Regions from separate parts of the Homo sapiens genome. Here all the other regions are reported to be linked to region 4. The links are microRNA targets in miRTarBase. Many come from high-throughput screens and were not tested one by one. Region 4 holds a microRNA gene; each other region holds the end of a gene's coding sequence.
Evidence for each region. The annotated mature microRNA hsa-miR-3692-5p reads CCUGCUGGUCAGGAGUGGAUACUG and lies in region 4 at 1,377-1,400, opposite strand. An mRNA with a match to its seed (bases 2 to 7 or 8) in the 3' UTR can be bound and repressed. Matches are read on the target gene's strand: a 7mer-m8 pairs with bases 2 to 8, a 7mer-A1 pairs with bases 2 to 7 and ends in A, and an 8mer does both.

Region 1: the mRNA of PTCD1 is a reported target of hsa-miR-3692-5p. Seed matches in the 3' UTR shown: 7mer-m8 at 3,687-3,693 and 7mer-m8 at 1,609-1,615.
Region 2: miRTarBase lists FKBP9 as a target of hsa-miR-3692-5p. Seed matches in the 3' UTR shown: 8mer at 3,094-3,101, 8mer at 3,082-3,089 and 7mer-m8 at 3,060-3,066.
Region 3: miRTarBase lists ZBED3 as a target of hsa-miR-3692-5p. Seed matches in the 3' UTR shown: 7mer-m8 at 942-948.
Region 5: the mRNA of BBS1 is a reported target of hsa-miR-3692-5p. Seed matches in the 3' UTR shown: 7mer-m8 at 1,844-1,850.
Region 6: miRTarBase lists FER as a target of hsa-miR-3692-5p. Seed matches in the 3' UTR shown: 8mer at 3,638-3,645.
Region 7: miRTarBase lists FFAR4 as a target of hsa-miR-3692-5p. Seed matches in the 3' UTR shown: 7mer-m8 at 3,150-3,156, 8mer at 2,455-2,462 and 7mer-m8 at 1,061-1,067.

The regions. Positions count from the first base shown.
Region 1 is chr7:99,416,104-99,420,222 of GRCh38, forward strand. It overlaps PTCD1 (pentatricopeptide repeat domain 1), which reads right to left. Exons shown (of 8, transcript NM_015545.4): 8 at 636-4,046. The coding sequence ends at 3,864. BUD31 (BUD31 spliceosome associated protein) reads left to right here. Exons shown (of 6, transcript NM_003910.4): 4 at 35-157; 5 at 1,326-1,492; 6 at 3,288-3,513. The coding sequence ends at 3,338. It overlaps ATP5MF-PTCD1 (ATP5MF-PTCD1 readthrough), which reads right to left. Exons shown (of 9, transcript NM_001198879.2): 9 at 636-4,046. The coding sequence ends at 3,864. Among named protein-coding and RNA genes, the nearest start is that of MIR12119, 9.0 kb to the left of the region's middle.
Region 2 is chr7:33,004,801-33,008,919 of GRCh38, reverse strand. FKBP9 (FKBP prolyl isomerase 9) reads right to left here. Exons shown (of 10, transcript NM_007270.5): 10 at 1,992-3,745. The coding sequence ends at 3,569. Among named protein-coding and RNA genes, the nearest start is that of FKBP9, 49 kb to the right of the region's middle.
Region 3 is chr5:77,073,593-77,077,696 of GRCh38, reverse strand. It overlaps ZBED3 (zinc finger BED-type containing 3), which reads left to right. Exons shown (of 3, transcript NM_032367.4): 3 at 1-4,104. The coding sequence ends at 523. Among named protein-coding and RNA genes, the nearest start is that of SNORA47, 4.9 kb to the left of the region's middle. RefSeq lists a silencer at 1-259.
Region 4 is chr6:157,526,418-157,530,536 of GRCh38, reverse strand. It overlaps MIR3692 (microRNA 3692), which reads right to left and starts at 1,405; the gene lies at 1,337-1,405. All of the region lies in intron 1 of ZDHHC14 (zDHHC palmitoyltransferase 14), which reads right to left.
Region 5 is chr11:66,531,505-66,535,611 of GRCh38, forward strand. It overlaps BBS1 (Bardet-Biedl syndrome 1), which reads left to right. Exons shown (of 17, transcript NM_024649.5): 16 at 152-238; 17 at 447-2,094. The coding sequence ends at 533. It also overlaps a transcript of ZDHHC24 not described here. Among named protein-coding and RNA genes, the nearest start is that of ZDHHC24, 12 kb to the right of the region's middle. RefSeq lists an enhancer at 1-449.
Region 6 is chr5:109,187,143-109,191,261 of GRCh38, reverse strand. FER (FER tyrosine kinase) reads right to left here. Exons shown (of 20, transcript NM_005246.4): 20 at 1-3,829. The coding sequence ends at 3,687. Among named protein-coding and RNA genes, the nearest start is that of PJA2, 220 kb to the left of the region's middle.
Region 7 is chr10:93,586,871-93,590,989 of GRCh38, reverse strand. It overlaps FFAR4 (free fatty acid receptor 4), which reads right to left. Exons shown (of 3, transcript NM_001195755.2): 3 at 918-3,770. The coding sequence ends at 3,381. Among named protein-coding and RNA genes, the nearest start is that of RBP4, 12 kb to the left of the region's middle.

The DNA.
Region 1 (4,119 bases), not on the chromosome of region 4:
TATTCCCCCAAACACACTCTTTGTTTCTCCCCAGCTGAAACAGAACCGCATGAGGGAAAGAGGAAAGTGGAATCTCTGTGGCCCATCTTCAGGATCCACCACCAGAAAACCCGCTACATCTTCGACCTCTTTTACAAGCGGAAAGCCATCAGCAGAGGTAATTAGTCAGTCTCTCTTGGACTTTGAAGCTCGCGTCACTTTTGGAGTTACTGAACTAACCACAATCCTTATTCTCGCAACCTGTGCAAGTCATGGTTTTTCTTACCACGAAAATTAGGGGGAGCCAACGTTGGCTGAGTTTTGTGTGTGTGTTTGTTTTTTGTTTGTTTGTTTTGAGATGGAGTCTCACTCTGTCACCCAGGCTGGAGTGCAGTGGCGCAATCTTGGCTCACTGCAAGCTCCACTTCCTGGGTTCAAGCGATTCTCCTGTCTCAGCTCCCAAGTAGCTGGGATTACAGGCACCTGCCACCACACCTGGCCAATTTTTGTATTTTTAGTAAAGATGGGGTTTCACCATATTGGTCAGGCTGATCTTGAACTCCTGACCTCAGGTGATTCACCCGACTCGGTCTCCCAAAGTGCTGGAATTATAGGCGTGGTCCACCGCTCTTGGCTTTTTTTTTTTTTTTTTTTTTGAAACAGGGTCTTGCTCTGTTCCACAGGCTGGAGTGCAGTGGTGCAATGATGGCTCACTGCAGCCTCAACCTTCTGGGCTCAAGGGATCCTCTCACCTCAACCTCCTGAGTAGCTGTGACTACAGGTGTGCACCACCACACCCAGCTAATTTTTAAATTTTTTGTGGAGATGGGCCCTTGGCCCAGGCTGGTTTCTTAACTCAAATGATCCTCTGGCGTTGGCTTCCAAAAGTGCTGGGATTACAGGTGTGAGGCACCTTGCCTGGCCTAAGTACTTTTTTTTTTTGTTCCTCCTCCAAGGACTGTCCCGTTGCAATACTGAATGCCTTTTTTTTTTTGAGATGGAGTTTCGCTGTCACCCAGGCTGGAGTCCAGTGGCACGACCTCAGGTCACTACAACCTCCGCCTCCTGGGTTCAAGTGATTCTCCTGCCTCAGCCTCCTAAGTAGCTGGGATTACAGCTGCTACCACGCCCGAGTAATTTTTGTATTTTTAGTAGAGACGGGGTTTTACCATGTTGGCCGGGCTGGTCCTGAACTCCTGACCTCAGGTGATCCGCCTGCCTCGGCCTCCCAAAGTGCTGGGATTACAGGTGTGAGCCACTGCACCCGGCCTGAATGCTTTTTTTGATCAAGGGTGGGGAAGGTTTTTAGACCATGGCCTGATGCTCTTTCCCCATCTTTTTGACAGAACTCTATGAATATTGTATTAAAGAAGGCTATGCAGACAAAAACCTGATTGCAAAATGGAAAAAGCAAGGATATGAGAACTTGTGCTGCCTGCGGTGCATTCAGACACGGGACACCAACTTCGGGACGAACTGCATCTGCCGCGTGCCCAAAAGCAAGCTGGAAGTGGTAATGTCTGACACTCAAGCTTGGTGTTGTTTTCAGCTCAAAATTCTGCCTTAGTCGACTGCAAGGGATCTTATGTTATTTGGTTGGGCTGGAATGTCGTTTTGTCCCTGGATGTCCTGCTGGCTCTCCCTCGTGGGAGTGGGTCCCTGTATTCAGGAATCCATGTGAGGCAGCGTGTGGCTGTGTGTTTGTTAGGTCTGGGGTCAATCTCAACTCCACTTTTGGGCAAATTACTGAACCCCTTTCCTCACTTAGGAAATGGTGGTGGGGAGCCCTAATCCCAAGGTGGTGGCAGGGTGACATCAGGGAAGGACAACCAGTGAGTTCCTGTCCCTTTCAGTCCTCACAGTGATACTTTAACATTACCATCACTATCTTTCCCGCCCCCCCAAGACGGAGTCTTGCTTTGTCGCCCAGGCTGGAGTGCAGTGATGCCATCTTGGCTCACTGCAACCTCCACCTCCCGGGTTCAAGCGGTTCTCCTGCCTCATCCTCCTGAGTAGCTGGGACTACAGGCATGCACCACCACGCCTGGCTAATTTTGTATTTTTAGTAGAGACGGGGTTTCTCAATGTTGCTCAGGCTGGTCTCGAACTCCCGACCTCAGGTGATCCACCCGCCTCAGCCTCCCAAAGTGCCGGGATTACAGGCATGAGCTACTGCGCCCAGCCCACTGTGTTTCTTCTTTCAGAACTTTCTGTTCCAAGTACCACTCCTAGGCCAGGCGCCTCAGGAGTGGTGCTGAGGGACAGGAGCTGAGCTCCATCCGGTTCCAAGCCCCTCTGAAAGGCAGCTGTGGCCCGAGGCAGAGTCACAGCAGTGGCCGCTCAGTGCAGCCCCTCAGCACAGTTGTTGGCCCCACCGCCCATCTGCCAGCCTGGCCTTCTTTTCCCCAGCTCCACACAGGGGCCTCTTCACATGAGTCCCCTTTATGCTGCAGTGAGACTGACAATGGAGAGCTGTGGCTGGATGCTGAGGACTTGGGTACTGAGCAGTGGGGGCGAGCAAGGGCCGCCTCCCCGACGGAAGACTGGGGTGTTGGTTTTCTGATGGAGGCAGGGACAGGTGGCAGAGTGGCAGAAGCCCCCTTCCTCTGAGTGCCCAGATTCCACAAGGAGTCCAGGTCAGGGGCTGGTGGGCTGGGGTGCTGCTTCAGCCCTGTGGCCAAAACAGCCCGCTGTAGACTTACCTGGGTTTCACCAGAGGATCCTGTTTACTTAAACTATGGTCTTGTTCTTCCAAAAAAAGAACTTGAAAAAGTAAAATAAACACAAGCCACTGTTCTAGGGCTTTCTGGCTGGCCAAGTGTTGGGCCGCACCAGGCCTGGGGGACAAGACCCTTCTTTCTGGGGGGCTCTGGGCCAGAAGGGTGTGACTCAAGTGCATAGTCTCCTGCCCTCTTCCCCCACCAGAGTGTACCAGCCCAGAGGCCCCCCTGAAGTCCCCAAACAGTAGCAGAGCCACGTCTGCTCATCGCAGGGTCTGTCATGCTCACTTAGCAGAATAACGAGACTCATTCACACCGATTTCTTTTTCTTGATTGGCAAACGTGTGTTGGATTTGCAGAACATATTATAAATAGACATACAGATGTAACCTCGGTGTCAACAGCAGCTGGTTCTACCTTCATGAGGGAGCCAAATTTTCCCTGTCCAGAGCTGTCAAGGAAGGGTTTCTGAGGTGTGTCCCTATATGGCATGGTGGCAGGTCCTTCGTGGGAGGGTTGCCACATATGTGAGTGTGCAGGGGCGAGCGTGGCGCAGTGGCATCGTCTCACTGTCCTCCTCCGTTGCAGGGCCGCATCATCGAGTGCACACACTGTGGCTGTCGTGGCTGCTCTGGCTGAGGCTGGCGCGCTCCACCCTGGACTCTGGACTTCGCAGGTTCCTGCCTGTCACGCCACCCCCTTCCTGGGAGCAGCGAGCAGTGCCCCAGGCCCGAGTTGGAGCACGGTCTCTATGGGGAAGGCTTCGCTGTCTATCAGCTGTGATTTGTAAAAATAAAATCTTTAAATCTCTCGAGCCCCACGTCTCTTCTTTCAGAGCATCGGCCTATGGAACCCGGCGGGGCGGCCCAGGCCCCAGGGACCAGATGCCCCAGCCCCCTTGTGGTGTGTGAGGTGACACACAAAGGTAGCTGGAGCTGGAAGTCCCGTGAAGGTGACACGCAAAGGTGGCTGGAGCTGCACTTGGACCTGCTGGGAGCACAGGCACCTTGGGCCTAGTGTGTGTCCTCACCAACACCTGTGACACGCTGCGGCTGTTCCTCAGGGCCTGGCTCTTCCCCCAGGCAGGAGGTGACACCAGCTCACTTGTCCTGGGGCTCCCACAGAGCACTGGGGGCCGAGCACATTGTTCCAGCTGTGCTCCCATCACCTGCCCCCAAGGGCACATCCGTCATCAGCCTCCTTGCCGGTGTCCTGGTCCCCCTGGGGCTTGGTCCGGAACTTCTGCCAGGGGTGCGGGGTTTCCTCTGCGGGCATCACTGTCAGCCACTGCTTGTAATAGGCTCGGAAGCCGTCAATCTTCTCCAGGTAGGTGTTCTTCCCTTGGTACTAGAATTAGAAAAGTGAGGCTAGAATCACTCCTGTTACCTACAGCTAATCCCAAACCTCGGCAGCTGGCTCA
Region 2 (4,119 bases), not on the chromosome of region 4:
CAAAAAACATTAAAAATATCTGGGCTTGGTGGCACCTGCCTGTGGTCCCAGCTACTCAGGAGGCTGAGATGGGAGGATTGCTTAAGCCCAGGAGGTCAAGGCTGCAGTGAGCTGTGATCGCACAATTGTACTCCGGCCTGGGTGACAAACCTTGTCTCAAAAAAAGAAAAAAAAAGTGCTGTCTCAGGTGAGAACTGATTTAGAAAACAAAAACAAAAATTGCTGTGTGGCATCTCTACCCTGTACTTGGCCCCTTATTTAGTATTTACAGCCTTGTTGGCAGAACTATAGCCCATAACCATAATGTAAATAGAAGCAAGTGTTGCAGCCATAGCATAAAGTGGGGCCAGCTAAGCAGCTTCCCCTTGCAGACAGATAAACGCGCCTGATCACTGAATGCCCTCCTCGGCAACGGGAAGAATGGAAGTGCCTAGGCAGAATTCAGCAGGCCAAAGCTTCTCTCCATTCCTGAAGTTCTAAGGTCCATGTCCTTTTTTTCTTTAGAGTCAGGGTTTCGCTCTGTTGTGCAGGCTGGAGGGCAGCGGTGCAATCACAAATCACTGCAGCCTTAATTTCCCGGGCTCAAGCAATCCTGCCTCCTCAGCCTCCCAAGTAGCTGCGACTACAGGCACATGCCACCATGCCCAGCTAATTTTTAAAATTTTTTTAGAGATGGGGTCTTGCTATATTACCCAGGCTGATCTCAAATTCCTGGCCTCCCAGAATGCTGGGATCACAGGCATGAACCACTGCCCCTGGCCAAGAAACTTATTTCTGATTCAGCCCGTCTGTCTCCACCATCACAGAAAACAGCCAGTGAAGAAATTCAAATAGGCAAATAAAAATCTGCGGTAGAGGATAAGCACAAGGTTTTTCTTTTCATAAGGCGGGTAAGGCTAATGAAGTCAAATGCATTCCAAAGCCCAATTCAACTTAGCAAGAAGCAAAAAAAAAAAAAATTTTTTTTTTTGAGACATAGTCTTGCTCTGTCTCCCAGGCTGGAGTGCAGTGGTGCCATCTCAGCTTACTGCAGCCTCCGCCTCCTGGGTTCAAGCAATTTTCCTGCCTCAGCCTCCTGAGCAGCTGGGATTACAGGCGCCCATCACCATGCCCGGCTAATTTTTTTTTTGTATTTTTAGTATAGAAGAGTTTTCACCATGTTGGCCAGGCTGGTCTTGAACTCCTGAACCTCAAATGATCCACCCATCTCAGCCTCCCAAACTGCTGGGATTACAGACATGAGCCACTGCACATGGCCAACATTTGCTTTTTAACAGCAACTTTATGTATATATAATACATATATTTTATGTTTATTAATATATATTAAAATAATTGCTTTTAAATATATAATTGCACCACACACACACACAGTTTCTCTATACATGTGCCAGTAATTCTCCATTTGCTCCCACCCACCCCATCCCTACCTCAGATTCATTCTCCACCTTTCTCTGCACTCAAGAGGCTGACTTCTGAGAACTCCAGTCTCTGAGCTCCTCTTACCCTCTGGCTTCCAACATGGTTCCACTAATGGGAGCCAGTGGCAGGCATCAGAGAATGGGGGCACAGAGGGGATGGGGCGTTTGTCCCTCGCTCTGCTGCAGTGTCAGCCGCACTGTCAGATGCAGCTGGCTGCATCCCTCTGTTACGCCTCCAGGTAGCCCTTCCTGTGCTGCTCCCACTGCCTCCTCTTGAGCTCTCAGGCCCTGGTGGTAGCAGCCTCCTGCGGTGGCCAACACTGCTGTCACTGGCACTCAACAGCCTCAGTTCCCCCAGCCTCGCCCACACCCCTCTAAACAGTCCTTTCCTTAGCTTCTCTTCAGGAGTCCCAGAGGAGGGCCAGGACCCTGACTGACACTCCCTATAAGTAGAGTGCGCTCCCTCAGTAAATGCAGTGAAGTCCTGCTGTTTTCATCAAGGGGATTCTGACTGCATGGTGCATTCTCATAGGTCTTCAGCCTTCCAATAAAATATCAGAAAACCAGATAATATCATTCAACATTTTATATCAGAAAAGATCAGCTTTCCAACATTTATTCCATGGAATGAGTGCACAGCATTTTCATGAACTACCTCAGGGCTACATCAGTACAAAATAGTTTAAATTAGTAAAATAAAGTAGTTTCAAAGGGAAATCATTGACGACTTCAGGATAAGTGCCACCACCATTTGGGAACAGAGGATAGAAGGTAGCCATGTGGTTATTCCATGATGCAGGAATCAGGTCGGCAGGTGGACTGTCATTGCTGTCTTGCGGCAGCTGGCCTCTGCCTTCAGGGTACCACCGTCTCCAGGACACAAATGGGCAGCAGAAAAATGTCACCTTGTTGATGCTCAGCAGCTCATCTATTGGGACAAAACTTCCATCTCGGCCAAGGGAAATACTCTGTTGAGTGACCAGCGGGGCCCAGCCCCCAGCCCTATTTATCTCATCAATATGGTTCAGGGAAGATAAAAAAGAGTGTTCTATGGGATAGAAAGGTGGGAATAAGAAAAAACTAAGTGGCTGGGCATGGTGAGTCACGCCTGTAATCCCAACACTTTGGGAGGCCAAGGTGGGCGGATCACGAGGTCGAGATTGAGACCATCCTGGCCAACACAGTGAAACCCCGTCTCTACTAAAAATACAAAAATTAGCCGGGCGTGGTGGTGCACACCTGTAGTCCCAGCTACTCAGGAGGCTGAGACAGGAGAATCGCTTGAATACGGGAGGCGGAGGCTGCAGTGAGCCGAGACAGTGCTGCAGTGAGCCGAGATGGCACCACTGCACTCCAGCCTGGCGACAAAGGGAGACTCTGCCTCCAGAAAAAAAAAAAAAAAAAAAAAGGAAAGGAAAAGCTAAGCAGATGACTTATGTGGCAAATGAGGAATCAAATTCTCTATTTGTGGTCTGAGATGCCTTTTCCTGGCCCAGTTTTCTGTCCAAAAGGCTCTTTTAACCTCCAAGTTATACACTATTAATGGTAGGCCCATAGTGGGGCGGGGTGTGATGAGCTGGAAAAGCATGATGTGCGTGTGCGTGTGCGGGGGTGGGGCCATCATCAGAATTTGCACAGGCTGCTGGGAAGAGCCATGGCTGTCTGCTGGGAACTCTGCTGGGGCAAGCAAGCCCTTTGACTCTCCTGCCCATCTCTAGAATATTTCTAAAATGTTTTAACCAGCAAGTTAAAAAAAAATTTAACCCTCTTTATATAGATACCCTGGACACCTTTTCTTATGGTTCCTCCAAGATGATTATAACTTCCGTCTGACACTATATATTCCTTTAATAACAAAATTTCCCAGAAGGCTCACAAATCATGGTTGGCAGTGCAGCCTTTTCAATACTGGACACATCCCATGCTAAGGCCCTCTGCACAGATTTTGTTTACTATCACTGGCGATCAGCCCAAACTTCTCACCCCATATATCAACCCACCCCGATGTGTACACCAGGTACTATGTGACCCACCTACTACTGGCTAATGATGCAACTTCTGAGAGACCCTTGCACCCTCACTGCACGTCTTGCCACACAGGTGGCTTGGTGTCACGTACTCCCTGGCACCATCTGGTTCATGCCAGGTTTAGAGTTCATCGTGTTTGGCTTCCTGGTCTTTGAGTTTAAATTCCTCGGCTGTGACCTTCCCATCTCCATTCCGGTCCTGGTTGGTGAACATATTCTTCACAATCAGCTCAGCATCAAAGCCAGGAGCGAGTTTCCCTTTGCCAGATGCCACCTGGGCGTGAATGTACTCTGAGAACTGGAAAAGAAGGGGACAGGAAAGACCATGAGTTCAGCCGCCATGAACGCCAGGCCTGGGGCCAGAAACAGAGCAGTCTGGGGGTGACAGGGCTGGAACTTGAGTCTGGGCTACCAACACAGACAAGATCTTTTTGGCAGCTATATGACCTATGATCTGTGTTTTGTTTTTTTTCTCTAAATGCAGGTGAAAAACCCTTGTGCTAAATGACTCCAAGAGCCCTTATTATTCAGGTAGCCAATACCCAGCAGCCGTCAGAGCTATTCCTTCTCCCAAGTTGGTTCCCCACCAAAGGCTGACCCCCAAGACCACCCAAGACTGTAAGAACATTCTTGGATGCAGGCATTCATTCATATGATCAAAACATATGGTCT
Region 3 (4,104 bases), not on the chromosome of region 4:
TCCGTCGGGCCACTGGGCCACCTGCCGTCTGTGCGGGGAGCAGGTGGGCCGCGGCCCGGGCTTCCACGCGGGGACCTCGGCGTTGTGGAGGCACCTGAGGAGCGCGCACCGGCGGGAGCTGGAGAGCAGCGGCGCCGGGAGCTCCCCACCTGCCGCGCCCTGCCCGCCGCCGCCCGGCCCCGCTGCGGCCCCCGAGGGCGACTGGGCGCGCCTGCTGGAACAGATGGGCGCGCTGGCCGTGCGCGGCAGCCGGCGGGAGCGGGAGCTGGAGCGGCGCGAGCTGGCCGTGGAGCAGGGCGAGCGCGCCCTGGAGCGGAGGCGGAGGGCGCTGCAGGAGGAAGAGCGCGCCGCGGCCCAGGCGCGCCGGGAACTGCAGGCCGAGCGGGAGGCGCTGCAGGCGCGGCTGCGGGATGTGAGCCGCCGTGAGGGCGCCCTGGGCTGGGCCCCCGCTGCGCCGCCGCCGCTCAAGGACGACCCCGAGGGTGACAGGGACGGCTGCGTCATCACAAAGGTCCTCCTGTAGGGGTGTGGCCACTTCCCCACCCCAGGACAGCGCTTCTCCGTCCAATGCCAATGCCTTCAGACCCCGCTGGGACCGAAGCCGTAACCGAAGCCAGGCCCGCAGCCGCTACTCACTCGGAAGCTCCAGCTAACTGTAGGATCTTCCACACCCTAAGGCTTCAGCTTGAGAAGCACTTCGAAGCCAGAGCAGAACCAAAACTCACTTCCATGGGGTCACCGGGGGTGCCTGGGCGGCCTTTCGTGGGCATGCACGCAAGGAATTGGGGTGGCACACGGGACACCCGAGAGCTCCAGGAGCCCCGTGAACCCAGACCACCCAGTGCCATGGCCACTTAGGGCTGGGAACCCGAACCTGGTGACTTTGAAAGGATAGAGCTTCATTCCATACCAAAGACTTATCACACCATGTGCCTATACACCCAGCAGCCCAAGGTGGAGGGTGCGTGGAAATGAGAAAGCTTTTTACCCAAAAAAAAAAAAAAAAGAGTTCCTAATGCATAATCTGCCCAACACCAAGTTCTGAAGGGTGGGTGAGGGACGTCCCCTCTAGTTTCCATGACTGCTGTAGACCCGCATCATCTCTAGCCCTCATCGGGGCAGTCCCAGAGCCCGCTTTTTTACTGCCCATATTATTCAACCAATACCAGGTGCACTCTGTCTCCCCTCGGCCATCCTTCCCTTGCTTCAGACCTAATGACAAGTGTGGCACATATGTCCACTTTCAGGCCTCACATCTGCCACCTTAGCAAGACATCACCTCATCCCCTTGTCACTAGGAAGAGGGCTTCTTCCCCACATGTCGTCATAGTGCTCACCTCTGGGCTGAAGGGGAAAGCATCCCTCCGCTTAAGGCCACATCTACCTGTCATTTTCCATCCCATTCCTCTCCCACGTTTACTGGGTCTTTCCTCCTGTAGTATTCCCCCTTTCGCTGTCTCAGTCCCTCCCTTTCCCCCAGGCTCTTCTTCCTCAGCAATGTGCAGTCTCCCTTTCTTACTGAAAAGAAAGACTTAACCCAGAAGGGCCAACAAGTCCTGGCTGCCTATCCTTCCTCCCCAGTTTTTACTCCCTCACTCTGGGTCAGTTTTCTTTTCTTTTTTTCTTTATGTGTGTATATATTATATATATATATACATATATACATATATATATACATATATACATATATATATACATATATACATATATATATACATATATACATATACATATATATATATATATATATATGTATATATAATACTTTAAGTTCTAGGGTGCATGTCAGTTTTCTATGCTTCACCAGACTATTTCCAAGCTGCCACAATCTCCCAGTGACCAAATATGATGATCTATTTGCAGCCTTCATTTTGCTTAATCTCTCCCTTGAAATTGCTCTCTTGGTAGGTGGATCCTGTTTTTCCTTCAAAGAATTCCTTTTCCTGTTGCATACTGGTTCCCAGTTTTTCCATAGGCCTCTTTTTTTTCTTATTTTTTTATATTGAAAAATTCCACACATCCAGAAAAAGTTGAAAGGCTAGCACAATGAATACTCAGATACATACTCTCCACTTGGATTGAATAGTTGTTAACATTTTGCCAGATTTACTATTCTCTCCACCCCATGCATGTGTACATAGAATGACATTTCGACCCCTGAGTATTACCACATAGATTTCCTGAGCACAAAGACACCGTTCTACATGATTACATTAAGATGATCATGCCTAAAAATATAAACAGTAACTTCTTTATAGCCTCTAATACAGAGCCCTTAATCAGTATTCAACAATTGTCTCCAGAATGTTTGTCTTTAAAAACAACGACAACAACCAGGTCCCATCAAGGTTCATACATTCTTTTGGTTTCAACTCTAGTCACTTTCAGTCTACAACAACCCCAACATATTTTCCCATGATACTTTTTGAAGCATCCAGGCCAGCTGTCTTAGCAAATGTCCTCTATTCTGGAAGTGTCTGATTGCTTCCTTAGGCCTATGTCTACACTCCACTCGTGGCTCATATCCCTGCAGAGTTGTAATCTCCTCTGGGCCAGGGACTCCTGAATATCTCCAGGCCGAGTGTTCTCCCCGGGCCTGGAGAAAACCTTCATGCCCAATCCCTTGCTGCATGTCTCCACCCCTCCTTGCACATCCTGCCTCTATGAGTGGACGAGGCAAATCTACTCAACCCCACATCCCACCCCTCACCTGATAACTAACATTTACTGGGCACTAACAATGTATCAGGCACATACTACACACTTAACATGCATTGCTTTCACATACCAGCTCCATGGTAACATTGCGCTGGCTTTACAGCTAAAGAAACTGAGCTAGAAAGGGGTTAAGTATCCTGTACAAGATCACAGCTGGCCAGCAATAGAGGTGGGATCCCACTGCAGACAGTCTCCCCCACAGATGCCATGCTCCCACTGTACCACCATGTACTGCTTCCTGAGATCTCTGCTTCCTTCAGTCGACCCAGCTGACACCTGTTTCCTTCCTAACTCCAACTAATTAATTCCAGTTAATGGAATTGACTGGAATTAGTGACATTAATATTTACTGAGCATTCCCCATGTGTCATCAGAGCTGTGCTAAATGCTTTACAAGAATAATTACCTGCCATAAAGCAACCCTATGACATAGGTGCTACTATGCCCATTTTGTAGATGAGACAGGTTCAGGGGAGTTAGTATCACCTTCAAGTCATACAGTGGCTAAGAATCTGTGGTCTCGCTGAATGCTGGGCGCCTGCTCTGCTAAGTCTATTTCTACAAAACATTGCACTGCCTTCCTGTTGCCTGCCAAGCTCAGGGCCCATTTATCATGCATCTTCCCATCCTTGTCTCCCCCAACTGTCCCTTACCTGAGTCACAATTTCGCCAAAGCCAAAGGGATTGTCCTAAGCCAATGTTGATTTATCACTCTTCCTGCTCAAAAGCCCCCAAGATCACCTATCAATCACCTACTTGAGTGCAAGCTTTGACTCTGTCACCTGACATTCAAGTCCCCCTCTGCCCCCATGCCAGTCTTATCCCCTCCCCTACATATGCCCTATCCTGCAGCCAAATTGGACTCTGTTCTTCCTGACAAGACCTGGTATTGGCATCTCTATGCCTCAGTTTGCCTTCCCTCCACTTTAAAAAGCCTCTTCAGTCTCGATACAAAAAACATCCCACACATGTTCTAAAACCATGCTTTCCTTGATTTCTCCTCATGTCAAGACATTTCTTACTTCTCTAGTCTCCTAGCATTTTGTGCCTCACAACCCTCAGGACAGGCCAGCTAGTGTATGGCTGTGGGTTTTTATCTCACCTCCCCTGCCTGACCCTGAGCCCTTGTGGGGAGTATACTCACCCTACTCCTACAGTGCCTTGCATTCCGTAGCTGCTCAGTACATTAACCCATTCAATGTCTTTAAGATTTTTACAAGTTAGTTTTCCTGTAATTACTAATCATTTATCTTTAATTCTGAGTAAAATTCACAACAACAAATAAAAGGAAATAGTAGTAATTTTTTAAGCTGTTTAGTCAATAAAGATTTAATGCGTCAGTTATTGGACTGTTTGGTTTGAAGCCAATCAACCATTCTGGTATGT
Region 4 (4,119 bases):
AAAGTGCATATTTGGTAGAAAAATGAACAAAATGAAATTCACTGAAAGTCTTTGGATATTGGGTTGCTGTTGGGGCTGCCGATTCATTTTTTCCTTCTCTAAAGGGACACAGCATTCATTCACAGATGATTCCTTTATCTCACCTAAAACAATGCCCGTGGTATCGACTATTATCCTTGGCAAAGTGCCTTTGCATTAAAACATGGTGACAGCATTTCTCGGCCCTGATGTTGGGGAGAGTTCCTACCATGTAATTATCCAGCTCAATTAGAAGACAAGGTCAGAACAAACAGATCCAGAGGGAAGGTCCATGCCTGCTAGACACACAGATGTGGTCCCACATCATTTTCTTTTTTCTTTTTTTCTTTTTAGGTAGCCTGTTACTGTTTCATACACATGGTTTTCAAAGTAACAGGCAGCCAGATAGTAAGACTGCAGGGAGCAAATGAAAATTCACATTTTTTTGATTGAGTACCTATATTGCAGGCAGTTTCACATATAACATTTCATATAATGTCTACAGAAATGTACACAGCTAATTGTCTATGACATTGGTATTACTGAGACCATCTCACAGATGAGGAAACTAAGGTTCATTAATTTGACTGATAAGACTTATAAGAGGTTCATTACTTTGAGCCTGGTTTAGCTAATAAGTTTCATAACCAGAAGTCAATCAGATGTGGCCGCCATCAAAGCCCATGGGCCCAAGGCATGGTCTCTCAATTGTACCACAATGAGGCCTACACTTCTGTTTTGCACTCTACACATTTTCTTAGTGGAATACAATAACAGCTGTACCTGTTTTCACCTTTTTATAAGGATCTCAATGATCCTCATTAAATGTAATTAAGAACACAGTGAAACCTGAAACTATTCTGCGTGAAGGTGCCTTGTCCAGTCTGGGGAGAAGACAAGCTCGGAGTCTTGGGTGACAAAGTCGCTCATTGATGGATTGCCAGCAGTCTGGTAGTAACGCCTTAGTGACTGAAGGTCAAGAACATTTCTCTTGGGCTCCGCTTCCCAATTCCAGTTGAAGAATAACAAGCTCTGTGGTTTCTACACAACAGAAACCACAGATTCCCAGGGGCCCTGTCAATCAAGCTTGACACTAAATGGTGATGACTGCTCCTGTTATTGCAAAATACATGTATACTAAACAAAGACCGTACTGGTTAGTTTTGCTTAAATACTGGAGGATTCTGACCAGTACAATGCTAAAACATAAACTTTCATTTATGAAAAAAGATAAACTTTCTAAAATTCCCAGGTTATACTCAAGAAGTAACTTGCTCCCTGTGAAGAGAGGGTGGGGTTGCAGAGACTCCAGAGATCTCCACTTCTGCAGTGTCAGTGTGGAACTGTATCTATTGCTCCAGTATCCACTCCTGACCAGCAGGAATGGCAAAGAACCTCAGAAGAGTACAGGTGGTAGGTGCTGAGTAAAACTGGAAGTCTGAGTGTGTCTCCTAGACACTAGCAACTACAAGGATATACTTTCAATGAAACTCTTTGAACTCATTGGGAGAAACCTGAAAAATACCATGTGCTGTTGAGGAATTAATGCCCACTCCCACCCCCAGTCTTCATCTAATTATGCTTTTATAATTAATTAATTAATGCCCACTCCCACCCCCAGTCTTCATCTAATTGTGCTTTTTAAATTAATTAATTAATGCCCACTCCCACCCCCAGTCTTCATCTAATTGTGCTTTTTTAATTAATTAATTAATGCCCACTCTCACCCCCAGTCTTCATCTAATTGTGCTTTTTAATTATTTTATTTTATTTTATTTTATTTTTTTGAGATGAAGTCTTGCTCTGTCGCCCAGTCTGGAGTGCAGTGGTGCGACCTCGGCTCACTACAAGCTCCGCCTCCCGGGTTTTTGCCATTCTCCTGCCTCAACCTCCCGAGTAGCTGGGACTACAGGCACCTGCCACCACGCCTGGCTAATTTCTTTGTATTTTTAGTAGAGACAGGGTTTCACCATGTTAGCCAGGATGGTCTCGATCTCCTGACCTCGTGATCTGCCCGCCTCAGCCTCCCAAAGTGCTGGGATTACAGGTGTGAGCCACTGCGCCCACCCTATCGTGCTTTTTAAATTAATTGATTAATGCCCACTCCCATCCCCAGTCTTCATCTACTTGTGCTTTTCCAAGTATATTCATCTATGGTTAAACTTTCATATCATTTCTTTACTTTTCTTTTAAGCCACACACTTCTGAGATTAAAAAACAACAACAACAAAAAAACTGTTCAGCTCATTTTGAAATACAACAGAAGTATTCCTGAGGACTTCCCCATGGCAAACACGATTATTAACTGATTACTAAAAAGAGAAGGGCAAAAGGCAAAATAATGGACATTAGATCTAGGGAAAAATGGTGGAAACAACCTTAAAGAATACGGTGGAGAAACATCTGGAAAAAGCATATTTAATTAGAGAACACCAAGAGGGACTGAAACAAAGGAAATCATGCCTGGCTGGCCTGATGGAAGGCTTGGAAGGTGTGACTGCCATGAAAGCTACAATCAATTAAATAAGTGCCACCTTTCTTGAATTTTGCCAAGCAGATGGCAAAGTTGGAGAATCAACAGGGAAACTGCAGAGTGATACAATGGAGAGAGAGAAGGATCAGAAAGCCCCTCCTACAGCTACATCCCTATCCCTCTTAGGCTTGCGTCATACATTGTCCAGTTGGCTTCAACATTCAGAATAACTGGAGCCCTAAAGAACTGTCAAGTTCTGAGAACAGTCTTTCCATTTCCAGAAACAACTTCCTGAGAGACCGTTACATGGCTGCCAAGAAAACACTGCTTCATGTTTAAAGCACTTGTGAAACTTGAGGTCAAAAAGCAGAGGTCCACCAAGCAAGGCCACAGAAAAACAGCTTGAAAATGCTCTAGCTGAGCCTATACGCTCTGTGGCAAAACCTCGTGACTGTAGTGCTTACTCTGGGCAGTTCTGGAAGGCTTTTTCTACCAGAAGTTTCCATCAGTTGAGGTTTTGACTCTTACTCTCCCCTGGGTGGAGACTCTGAGGCTGCATGGTGCAAGATGAAAGGACTTCAATATTGTCTGACTATAAGAGCAAGCTCTGCAAAGCACTTTTTTGAAGAGATTTTTGAATGGAAAATCTGGGTGGGAAAATAGGAAAACAGGTCAGTTGAGCAAAGGAATATCAACTATTCCTGTTCGCCACATGAGCTGAGAATGCAGCCTCTCCTTCAGAGTAGAAACAGGAGCTGGGGAGCTCCTGGAGTCGATGGGAGGTGCCCAAGTCTGGTAGGAGATGGGGGCACTGATGCAGCCATGGCCCCCCGGCTGGTGTAATCTGCTTTCAGGCACCCAGTTGCAGGGTGGCTCAGCTGAGGGTCACCAGCTTGCAGCGATAGAAGAGAACGTTGGCCTTACCTACGGCCATGGTTTCACATTGTGTGGGAGGATCCATAGATTCTCAAAGGGGTCCTGGACCCCAACAGTATTATAAACTACTACTCTTAGGAGGGGAGGTACGTAATCAAGTACCTATTCAGAAGCACACTCTGAGGCCAGCTGCTAAAGATGCTGCCCCAAGTCCTTCAGTGCTCCCGGCCACCATCCACTGCCCCGGCCCCTCTCCCCACATCCCTAGAACCTCTCTCTATGAGCCAGCAAATAAAAATTAACATCTACCCAGGTCCCTGGTCCAGCGGTTGGTGAATAATCTGGCTGTCCACACTGCCCTTCAGCCTTCTCAGCCGAGCCCTGGCGCACGTGTGTCAGTCCATTCAGAGAAGATGGGTTCCCACAGTCGCTGAAGTAGGCAGGAGCACAGAGGCCACCCTGAGACTAGCACAGACGTAGGGCCATGTAGGGAAGCCCCTTCCTAACCCACGAGCTTGAGGGTGGGCAAGACTCCCAAATGTGAAGACACTCGTGTGTGAAAGAGAAAAACAACCCAAGGCTAAATGAGAGAGTGAAAAGAAGGTTCTAGAAGAGATACAAGAGAGGTACTATCCTATCCCTAGCTTTGTCTGGAGTCTACAGAACTTTACCTTGTCAAGACCGAGTAGACCAACGTTTAAGACAAGAACCTGACTCACTTCCATACCAGGATAATCTGGGAGATGGGGACA
Region 5 (4,107 bases), not on the chromosome of region 4:
ACCACACCTGCATCCTCCTCCACCCAGCAGTTGTCCTGCCCACCCTGCAGGGGTGCTGAGGCTCAGTGGAGACTGCGGGCCTGAATGCACTGGAATATGCCAAACACTGGCACGAGGGCTGGTTTCCTTACTTCTTTGTCCCCAAACTTAGGTACCCTTGCTGGTGCCAGGGCTCAACTACCCCCTGGAGACCTTTGTGGAGAGTCTCAGTAACAAGGGCATCTCAGACATCATCAAGGTAGGCCCCGCACTTGTACCACGTGGAAGGTGAGCAGGACCCTGGGGAGGACAGTAAGGGTGAGTGCCAACAAAGACCTTAGGGGGCTCCTGGGTGGGGGTGGGGGTATCTGCACAGTGGAGCCCTGTGGCCTGTCATTAGGGCCAGCGCAGACCAGGCAAGGGGTCAGGGGTGTATGCCCCCTGCTGCCATGGCCACTCCTCCATAGGTGCTGGTGCTTCGAGAAGGCCAAAGTGCACCCCTGCTGAGTGCCCACGTCAACATGCCTGGGAGCGAGGGGCTGGCGGCCGCCTGAGACCTGAGCTGCTGTGAAAGCCCCTGCACAATCAGCCAGGGAGAACTGGGCGGGTTTAGTGGCCCCAGGCCCACTCCTCATGCAGCAGTGTGCTGGGGCGACAGCTCGTCTCCCCTCTCTTAAGCACCCGCTTCCTCACCACCCCCACTGTTGGGCCTATAGTAGCAGGTTAGTGAGTACCTAGGGCGGCTCAACTCCTCCCACAGCACCAACCCAGCATGGTCCCACTGAAGTCCTACTACGCCCTCCCCTCCCCAGCCTTTTCCAGAAACCATACTGGGCTCAGATCAGAGCTCCGAAGCGGTCAAAGTGAGCTGAGCAGGACAGGCCCAGCCTTTCTCCACTGCCACGTCCCTCATGCACATCACTCATCTCCTGCTGCAGGCCAAGGCCAAAATTGGGCTAGTCCTGGCCAGGGAAATCAGAAGCTCTTCTTGGGTGAGATTGAGCCTCCTGTTGCTCCCTGGAGTTCCGGAGGCTGGGCTGCAGCCCACTCAGCTTGCGGGCAAAATACGTGCTCTCCTCTCTCCTTGTCAGCTGAGCAAACCCAGGGAATAGCCCTCCTCTCCCCAGGAAACTTCTCTGAAATCTTAGACTTAGCCAGTCTTAGGCCTACGATGCCACACAAAGGTTGTTCAGGGAGAAGGGGGTGCAGGAGGCAGAGGGTGCCCCGCAGGGAGCTGGTGGCTCCAGCCCCACTAGAGCTCCTAAAGATCACACAGCAGCTGCTCCTGACAGGGATGCTCATGCCCAGAAAGCAAGCCCAGGAGAGGAAGGCAGAGTGTGACAGAGCAGAGCCAGGGCCAGGCGCACCAGGAGAGGCGTTTCTGGGGCTCCAGAGAAGTGCCACGGGAGGCAGAAGTCCAGAACTGCCCATATAGATGCCCTTCTACATCCTGGAGCCCAAATCAGTCATGTGGGTGGGAAGTTCCCAGGGCAGTGGTCACATCGTGAGAATTAGCAGGAAAGGCGGGGCCTTTCTTGTCATAGCTATTTCTGAGGATGAAATGGGAGACATATGCCCAGCACCTGATGTAAGTTTATATAATGTAATATTATGTACCTACCACTAAGAAATACATGAACCGTGCCATGAGGACAGTAAGTGTTCATAAAGCAACATGAAGCAAGAAACAGTGCAGGGTGCCCAGTGCACACACTAGAGAGAAATTGTGAACATTAAGGACAAGGAGAATTGGTGTCTTTCTAAAACATACTTATTTAAAAACACATACCCACTTACTAATGTGGAATTACACAGTTTGTAACAAGAAAACAGTCTCTCCCATTCTCTAGTACTGCTCCCCTACCCAGCAGTCACTTCCAGTTCATTCAGCTATTTTTAAAATGTGCTTATATGACTCTTGCTTGATATATCAATCTTAGACATTACCTGTTGACTCCCTGTTGTCATACATGAGGCTTTAGCTCTCTTTTGTCAGCAACCCTCCCCCATCCCTAGTTATTAGGTTAAAAAATACTCAGATTACTATTTCTATTACTATGTGAAAGTTAACTGCGGAGCCAAGAGTTGGACTATAATTAAATTACCTTCCTTGTACTTTCTTTTTAATGGAGTTAATGAGTTGCCCTGAGTTTCTCATTTACTTTGTTTTCTGATGGACTGATTGCTAATTCTTCCCCCACCATCTGACAGCTCCTCTTTTTTCTAGACACTTCCCTTCATCCCCTGCTTCACTGAGGACTGTTTGTTTTCCAGGTAAATTGCCTTTGCCTCTCTCCTGGGCTAGATCCTGATTCCTGGGCCTGATGGCTTCCTATTTCTCAGTTCACCCTCATTTGGTGAAACATATCCTCAAATATCTTCTTTAAAAAGTCATGGCCAGAAGGCTGGGCACTGTGGCTCACGCCTGTAATCCCAGCACTTTGGGAGGCCGGGGCAGGCGGACCACCTGAGGTCAGGAGTTTGAGACCAGCCCGGCCAACATGGTGAAACCCTGTCTCTACTAAAAATACAAAAATTAGCCAGGCGTGGTGGCAGACACCTGTAGTTCCAGCTACTTGGGAGGCTGAGGCAGGAGAATCGCTTGAACCCGGGAGGCGGAGGTTGCAGTGAGCTGAGATTGTGCCACTGCACTCCAGCCTGGGCAAAACGAGCGAAACTGGCTGGGCGTGGTAGCTCACACGTGTAATCCCAGCACTTTGGGAGGCCGAGGCAGGCAGATCACAAGGCCAGGAGTTCGAGACCAGCCTGGCCAACATGGTGAAACCCCATCTCTACTAAAAATACAAAAACTAGCCAGGCATGGTGGCAGGCGCGTGTAATCCCAGCTACTTGGAAGGCTGAGGCAGGAGAATTGCTTGAAACAGGAAGGTGGAGGTTGTAGTGAGCCAAGATCGCGCCACTACACCACTCTAGCCTGGGCAAGAGCGAAACTCTGTCTCAAAAAAAAAAAAAAAAAAAAAAAAAAGCGAAACTCTGTCTCAAAAGAAAAGAAAAAAAAAAAAGTCACTAGAGGCCGGGTATAGTGGTTCACACTTGTAATCCCAGCCCTTTGAGAAGCCAAGGCAGGAGGATCGCTTGAACCCATAAGCTGGAGACCAGCCTGTGCAACATGGTGAGACCCTGTCCCTACCAAAAAAAATAAAGTCATTAGAGTTTTTAAAGATTTTTTTCATTTATTTTATTTTATTTTATTTTATTATTTGTTTTTTGAGACGGAGTCTCACTGTGTCGCCCAGGCTGGAGTGCAGTGGCGCGGTCTCGGCTCGCTGCAAGCATCACCTCCCAGGTTCACACCATTCTCTTGCCTCAGCCTCCCGAGTAGCTGGGACTACAGGCGCCTGCCACCATGCCCGGCTAATTTTTCGTATTTTTAGTAGAAACAGCGTTTCACCGTGTTAGCCAGAATGGTCTCGATCTCCTCACCTCGTGATCTGCTAGAGTGTGCTGGCGTGATCTCGGCTCACTGCAACCTCTGCCTCCCGGGCTCAAGTGATTCTCCTCCATCAGACTCCCGAGTAGCTGGGATTACAGGCATGCACCACTGCACCTGGCTAATTTTTGTATTTTTAGTAGAGACAGGGTTTTACCATGTTGGCCAAGCTGGCCTTGAATTCCTGACCTCAGGTGATCCGCCTGCCTCAGCCTCCCAAAGTGCTGGGATTACAGGCATGAGCCACCACACCTGGCCTGGACACAACTTTTGTTTTTGTTTTAGTTTTTTTGAGACAGAGTCTAGCTCTTGTCACCCAGGCTGGAGTGCAGAAGCACGGTCACAGCTCACTGCAGCCTCGACCTGCTGAGCTCAAGCCATCGTCCCACCTCAGCCCACCCCCATCCCCCACACTACAGACGCACTACCACACAAGGCTTTTTTTTTTTTTTTAAGACACAGGGTCTCACTATGTTGTCCAGGCTTGTCTCAAACGCCAGGCCTCAAGTGATCCTCCCGCCTCAGCCTCCCAAAGTGTGGGATTACAGTGCCCAGCCCCCATTAATTTTGTATTTTGCAGAGACAGGGTCTCACTATGTTGCCCAGGCTCACAGTCTATTTTGATAGTGCATGTATAATAGCATACGATATCAGATACTTAAGAATTAATCCAATTT
Region 6 (4,119 bases), not on the chromosome of region 4:
AGAATTAATTATAAAGTGGTGTGACTGAAAGAACCCTGAAAAACTGTGACTTATGATTCAGATATTTGTATTGTTACATTATAATTTATTTGGATTGTTGCATTTTAATTTTTGTTTATCCCACTACAAGGTCCTCAGTGGGTGGCGTATGTTGTAACTAAAACACTTTCTTCTTGACATAATCTAACACTAGTATTGTGAAGCCATAGTTATTTTGTGGTACTAGCCAATCTTCACAAAAGTTATATGGGAAAACTGAACTGAATATAATATAGATAGAAAAACCAAATTATGGTTTAAAGGAAATTAAAACTATTTCAATTACAAAACATTTTTTCTTCTCAAAATAATCCTAAAATGAAAAACAACTGTGAAATGTGCACTGAAAATATCTAACACAGTTAGGCTCCTGGTCTATACTTATCTGCTAATAAGATGTTTCAGTAATATCGTATTTGTAATAAAACAGTGAATTACGAAAGGAGAATTTTATTGCCCACATTAAATTTGGGAGATAAAAGAGAAACAATTACATGAGACCTTTCACTGGAGACCTCTCACTGGAGACCTCATGGCAGGACAGGCTGAAATAAAGCTTCAGTTTCTGAAGTTTAAACAAAACCTGTCAATTTTATTTTCCCAGAAGAGAAAGAATATGTTGGCTTTGGCCTTAGATTACATGGAATGCAAAATTAATTTTAGGTTTCACATGTTGGTAATAAATGTTAATTTAACAGTGAAAAATTTCTTTCCTTGTGAAATGATGAACAACCTAAACTGTCTCATAAAGGCCCCTTAGTGACCAGTGAGACACAGACTGCTTGTGTTTACCTCCCCCTTTTAATAAATTTAAGGACTTATGAGAGGAACTATGCAGTAGTAAGAATATATATATATATCTTGAATAATCCATTAACAACACAAAGATTTGTGACTGGACTAATTACATCCGGACCAGAAGAAATTTTGGTTACAACTCTTTTCTTACTAAACAAATCACAGGATTTTGTACATTTCTGAATCTTCCTTTCCCTACATCAACTTGCACATTCTGAACAGTATGTTCGTGCTTCCTGGGCATGGATTAGCCTCCTAAAGTATATAATTCCAATAATTAATTATCAGTGACAGAAGGGATGAATAAATTATGCTTCAAGCACAACAAAATTAACAGTGAAAAACTGTTTGCGTAAGTTTTTCTTAATGCATGTGACTATATTAAATTTAATATTCTATATGACTGAGAGACTCCCAATAAGTTATTAATCCTGAACTATACCACTGCCTGCTTTAGGACAAAGAATAAAATGGAATTTAAATGCTACACATGTCACGATGTTTTGAAAAGCTTTTTAAATTTAAGCACAGAGTAATGATGTGAACTGCAAATTCTAACAGCCTGGATAAGTGAAATATCAATGCTGTGTTCATTCTTAACACCAGAATGTCAGGATTAAGCTTTAGGTCTTGTTCATAAAACTAAAGCCAAAACCATCATTCTCTCTCCTTGCTGAGAGCTTAGCATGAAGCCACTATGAGATGGGAGGCTGTTTTCTTTAAACAGACAAAGAATATTACAGAGATTCACTTAGAAATACTAAAAAAAAGGGTAGGAATATCCCATTTTACTCTTACTTTTGAAGGTTGGTAAGTGCCTCAATACCATAGCACTTCTGAGTTTGCGCTTTGATTTACCATAGTACGTGCCATCAAAAGAAATTTCCCTTTAGTCTGAATGTACTAATCATTAAGTATGTATGAAATCTGCAAGGAGATTGAAATGTTAGATACAAGTCACTTTTCTCTTCAGTATTATCTTTCATACTCTAAAGTACTGGTGTGAGTTCTGTGCGATGGTACAGGCAGCAAACAGCTGGAGAGGGCAGGAGGCATTTTCTATCCCTAAGCTCTTCCAATGAATGCAGACCAAATAATCACTAAGGTAATGTTTACCAGGACACAGGCCTGAGAACTTATAAAAGGCTTCCAGAACATATTTAGCCCTGAGCATGACCATCTTCTATATATGCATTTATCCTGAGAGGCAACTATATACAGATCATGGGGTAAGTAAGTAAGTTCCCTAGATAAGAGTTAAGATACAGAATCCTAGTTTTAACTGAGTGAGTGAGTTACATTTTATTCACATGAGACATCTTCAGCACTCTGCTTGCATACCTGTCAGCTAATGGTAAGAATGTCCAGGGGGCAGTATAATGGTCAATGAAGGTGGAAGTAGAAATGGGAGGGCTGTCCCTATGTCATATTTCTCATTAATATTCACCTGACTTCTAGACTGTCTACTTCATTCACATCTGTCTTGCACCTTGGTGGTGTGTGTGCACGCGCATGTACACACGTGAATGTGTTGGTGAACTAGAATCATGAAATTCTGACAGCTCTAAAAACTGGTACAAATAAAGGAAATTACATTTTGGAATGCCCCCTCTAAGGTGAAAATGCTTAACTGAAAGTATGCTGTTATTTCTGTGGATTTGTGCTTTGCAGTTTCTCTCAAAATTTTTGTTGCCATTACGAGGACTCTACGAACTCCTGAAACTTTTCTTAGGACCTTTCTGGTAAATTCAGACCATAAAATAGAATATGTATTATTATGTGTTTTTAGAATAGAATATGTGAATGTTTGTTTGTTTAGATGTTTAGAAAGGCATAACTCTGATAAGGTGGTTTTATATTTTCACTTTCTTCTTTACTCTGTTAATCATTCTTTAGCTGCTCTGTTCTCCAGCCCACCCTCCTGTTCAAATCTGTTTCTTGCTTCACAGCTCTCTGTACATCCTTGAAAAGCAACTGCCTCAACTCTAACTTTGACGACGTTTCATGCGTTGTGTGTGTGTTTCTTTTTTTTTTTTTGGTAGAGACAGGGTTTCACCATGCAAGCCAGGCTGGTCTCGAACTCCTGACCTCAGGTGATCCGCCTGCCTCAGCCTCCCAAAGGAGGGAGGGGGCTGGGCACTGTGGCTCACGCCTGTAATCCCAGGCATGAGATTACATGCCTGGGATTACAGGCGTGAGCCACCGTGCCCGACCTACGTGCATTGTTTTCTGATGCCCAGACAAAGGAGGAGGAAAATGACAACCTTACAAATAATGTAGGAGCATGATGATTCTTACATTGGGCTTATACCTGGCAAGAAAGAAAAGAAAAATCTCAGGAGGTCCAAATAATTCCCAATATAAAATTCTGTTTGTTTGTTTACAAATATAATCCTGCTTTGGCAGAGGTGAAAGCCAGCTGTGGTTGGAACATGTCCTGCAAACATGGCATTACCAATGCTGTTTATAGCACCAACGGAGTAGGGTCTGTGGCATAGGATGGCAGCCTACAAACTGTGCCTGAAGTAGAAACAAGGTGTGAAAAGGATAGGATAGATCTTTTATCCTTCACACACTTAGAAGCCTGTGCTTTTCTATTTGCAATGGCCTGAAATGGTAGGATTGCTATGGTTAGCTAAGAAAGCCCTTGGTAGGACTGCCTATTTCTTTAACAAATTTGCCTTTGACTTTTTACAAGTGGAACGTACTTTTAAAACACCCAGTTAATAAAAAATAATGGTAGAAGACTGTCGAAGGTAATGTGGTATAAATTCATTGTTAATGAGAACAATAATGTTACTCTGCTGGAGGACAGAGTCCTGAAGGCTGAGTTTGGCGCCATCCTGTCACTATGTGAGTTTTCTCTTGATGATAGTGAGCTCTTTCTGAAGTTCACTGAACTTAGGGCGATTTTCAGGTTTATAATCCCAACACTTCATCATGATTTTGGAAATATCCTCTGGACAGTGCTGGGGAGCTGACATCCGGTATCCTGAAGACCCAAGAGAAGGAGAACAGAATTTAGAATGGAGGTAAGACACAAAATGTTCACACAGGGCATTATGCAGTTATTAACTTTTGGTACCTTATGTTGTAGTTATATGGAAACAAAACATCCATTTCTGGGGAGGCTGAGTTTTTATTTTCTACAGGTGATGCAGAATTCAATATTACAGAGTCTTAGAGTTCTAATTCAAAGAACATTTTTTATTTGTTCATTTCTCAGAAAGTCTGATGTAAGATACAATACAAATGCATATTTTAGTTGCTCTAAGTATTCAC
Region 7 (4,119 bases), not on the chromosome of region 4:
GGCAATGTCCCTTAGAGCTCTGGGGAGCTGTGAAACCGGTGATGCCAGGCTGATGTCTATGAAATGCACTGGGAGTGAGGAAAGGGTCACAGATCTCCGCCTGGGTGTTGGAATATCCAGGGACCGTGGGAGGCTCCCGGGGGCCCCATGCTAGTGTTCTCCACCAAAGACAGAGGAGACAGGTGATGTGCATGGGAGAGCTTTGCCTTCCTCTCTCACGGAACCACAGGCTGTCAGAGCCTTGCTCCGCAGCTTCAGTTTGACAACCTCAGAGAACCATAATGATATAGGAGTTAAAAAGAAATTACTCGGGCAGATAGTGAGGGTATGGAAGTCCTTGGTAAGATTTTCCTTTTAATGAAAAGCAGCCCCTAAATCCTTTTCTAACAAAAAGCAGCTGTAAAATCGTGCTGCAGACATAGACAAGCAAGTTGGAAGCTTGCATGGGTGAATGCCAGCAGTTGTGTCCATTGGAATGTACTACCTAAGACTAAGCATGTTCAAAATGGCGGCTCCGTCTTCTCTTTTTGCCAGCTATGAGTGCAGTAAGGAGAAGACAAGATGGCCAAGTGGAAAGTCCATTTGCATAATCAGATTTGGGTGGGGTGGCCAGCCTTTCTCGTGCACTACGTAAACGTCACACCTGGTCAAACCAATCTGTGAGCCCTATGTAAATCAGACACCACCTCCTCAAGCCTGCCTATAAAATACGCTGTGGTCCACCACTTTTCCCTTTTCAGATGCCTCTGTCTCACGAGAGAGAGAGCTGCTCTCCTCTCTCCTTTCTTCTGCCTATTAAACATTCTGTTCCTTAACCCACCCACATATGTCCGTGTCCTTAATCCTCTTGGCGCAAGATGACAAACCCCGGTTATTTACCCCAGACAGCAATGCCGCTTCAATAAGATAGCCACACATCACTTCCAAAAACAGGTTTAATTGATCAAATCTATTAACTAAAGTGAGCAAAACATCTCTGTTCGTTTGTCTTCGAGCTTGTGATATCCATGAATCTGACTTCAGAAGCAAGCTGCTCCAGAAACTGCATAAGCAGTCACTACTGCTGGTGCTGATTTCCTCAGCAACAAAGATTTGTTGAACACCTACTATACACCAGGCCCCGTGCTGCTGTGCATTCCAGCCACTGGCCCAGCCTCCAAGTGGTGGAGTGACCCTGGGTTCGGTCTTTGGCTCTGGTTTCTCTCTATCTCTCCAAGGGATGTATTATAAAACCATAGGTCTATAAACACCATTTATATCTCCAAACAATGTGCATCTCCAGGCCCAAGCTCCACATCTCTGCATCCAACTGCCTATTCAATTTGGAAGTCTCACTGAGATTTCAAACTGATGAGCTCCAAATGAAACTCTTGGCTCCCCCCCCCCTAATCTTTGCCCAGGCCCCCCCATTTTTGTTGCCTGCTTCACCATCCAACCAATGACAGGCTAAAAAATCAGAGTATTCCCCTTGAGTTCTCCCTTTCCCTCACATTCTATCAATTCCATCCTTCCCATCAATAAATCATCTTTGTTTTACCTTCCCAAGGTATATTTACAAGTCATTTCTCACAATCCCTCCCTAATGCCACTCACCTCCAAGGTCCCATCCCCATGTCACACTTCAGCAGCTGCCCAACTGGTCTCCATTTTCACTCATGCTCCTCAGAGTCTATTCCCTGCCCAGCAGCCAGGGTAATCTTTGCACACATTCATCAGGTCACGTCAGCCTCCAGTTGCCAACCTCCAGGGGCTTGGAGAACAGAATAAACTCCTAGGCCCTATGTGATCTAACCCTGCAATTTCTCTGGCCTCAACTGACAGGCCCCAGCCGGGTACCCCTCATCTCAGCATTAAAGGCAGTGCCTAGTGCAGAGGAGGCTCCATCAATAGTCGGCTTACGCCACTCTCCCTTCAAGCGTGTCAGCCTCCTTGCACTAACATCTCTTCTGTGTCCCTTCCCCCATTCACACAGGTGGCCCTTTCTTGTCGCTTACCTTTTGATCCAATTTGTCACTCCTCAGAAAGGTCTCCTTAGGCCCCTCCCCATCTGATCTAAATTCCCATCACTACCATAGCCCCCGTCCCATTTTCTTCACAGTGCTTATTCGCTCTGTGATGCTATACTATTTATTGACTTGTAGCCAGGCGTGGCGGCTCACGCCTGTAATCCCAGCTACTTGGGAGGCTGAGGCGGGAGGATTGCTTGAGCCAAGGCATTTGAGGCTTCAGGGAGCCGTGATTGTGCCGTTGCACTCCAGCCTGGGCATTGGAGCAAGACCCTCATCTCAAATATATAGGTATCTGTATATAGATATAGTTTATTGACTTTTATTTAGTTTTTCTGCCCCTGACTCGAAGGTAAGTTCCCTGAGAGAGGGCCATGGCTGTCTGGTTCACCACTGTATTCCTAGCACAAAGGACACTGTCTGCCATGGCTGGTGCTTAAGAGGCATCTCTGCTGGATGCGTCAGGAGTAAACCACTCCTGAACTCACTCTCAAACATTTCAGAGCCATCCTACTTTCTCTCTCATTTCATGATGCCGATTCTCTTAAAAGGGTCCATAGCATTTTTATAAATGAAAAAAAAAAAAAAGTAAGTCATCTTTAACTGTTCCTTAGAAATTCTTCAATTGCTCTTGACATCAACGAATGATCCTAAACCCTTGCGAGTCCAAGGTAGGGCACAGGGTGGCTGTGACCCTTCAGAGGAGAAATCTGCGTCCTGAATCGGTTCTAAGACTCACTTCAGAAACCACTATGGTGTGGCTTTATATGTAGGAGATGTGATTGCTGAACAGTCATAAATAAATATTTATTAAATTTGATCATATTACAAACACACTAAAAAAGTTCACATTTAAAAGGAACCCATAACAAATCTTTTTTTTTTTTTTTTTAAGATGGAGTTTCACTCTTGTTGCCCTGGTTGGAGTGCAATGGCACGATCTCGGCTCACTGCAACCTCTGCCTCCCAGGTTCAAGAGATTCTCCTGGTTCAGCCTCCCAAGTAGCTAGGATTACAGGTGCCCACCACCACTCCCAGCTAATTTTTTTTTTTATTTTTAGTAGAGACGGGGGTCTCACCATGTTGGTCAGGTTGGTCTCGAACTCCTGACCTCAGGTGATCCACCCACCTCAGCCTCCCAAACTGCTGGGATTACAGGCATGAACCACTGCACCTGGCCAACAAATCCTTTTATAAAGGGAAAATATTATGAAACTTGGTGATCACCCCTTAATTTACCGACGCTGTGGATGTCTATTTGCATAGGTTCATTTTCTTAAAGCAGGGTGCACTGATGGAGGGTACTGGAAATGAACTCTGTTTAAAAGCATGCCACAGCTCGCCAGGTGTGAGAAACTCGGCTATAAAGAAAAATTAGCCAGAAATAATCGACAAGTCATTTCTTTTGACAGATGTGTCTGTTAAAATGGCTCCCTTTTCTGGGAACCAGAAGCAGCAAAAAATTTTCTTCCACTCATTCCTGCACAGTGTCATGTTGTAGAGGATGGGGTTTAGGGCTGAATTAGCAAATGTGAAGGCCACCACCCAGAAGAAGAGGGACGGCCAGATGACCAGGTCTTGCTTGAAGTTCTGGATCAGGATGAGGAGGATGGTGATGATGATGGGGCTCCACATGATGAAGAAGGAGACCATGAGGAGGAAGAGGGTGCGGAAGAGCCGGAAGTCCTGCTGGGACACGCGGATCTGGTGGCTCTCCGAGTAGGCCAGGCTTACCGTGAGCCTCTTCCTTGATGCCTTTGTGATCTGTGGAAAACCAAAACAGGACTGGAGCCACAGGTGACCGAGGGTTGTTGGGGATTTTGAGTTAGGGGCCCAAGAGTTGGAATCTGCTATCCCCAAGGCACTGAAGCTGTGTGCCTCTGGGACTTTGTGTGCCCGAGCTTAGGATGTGCTGGAGAAATGGGACCCCGGCTGCACTCCTGAGAAATAAAGCAGAAAATCACCTACCTTCTAAACAGCGTTATGAGGGGAAGTGAAAAGCCTGAATTGGGTGGTCTACAAGAGGGACATCTTCCCTGTTATTTTTTTAAAAGAGATGTCTCTTTAATTGTTTGCAAGCACAATGTGCTTAGGGTTCAAACTCAAACAATGC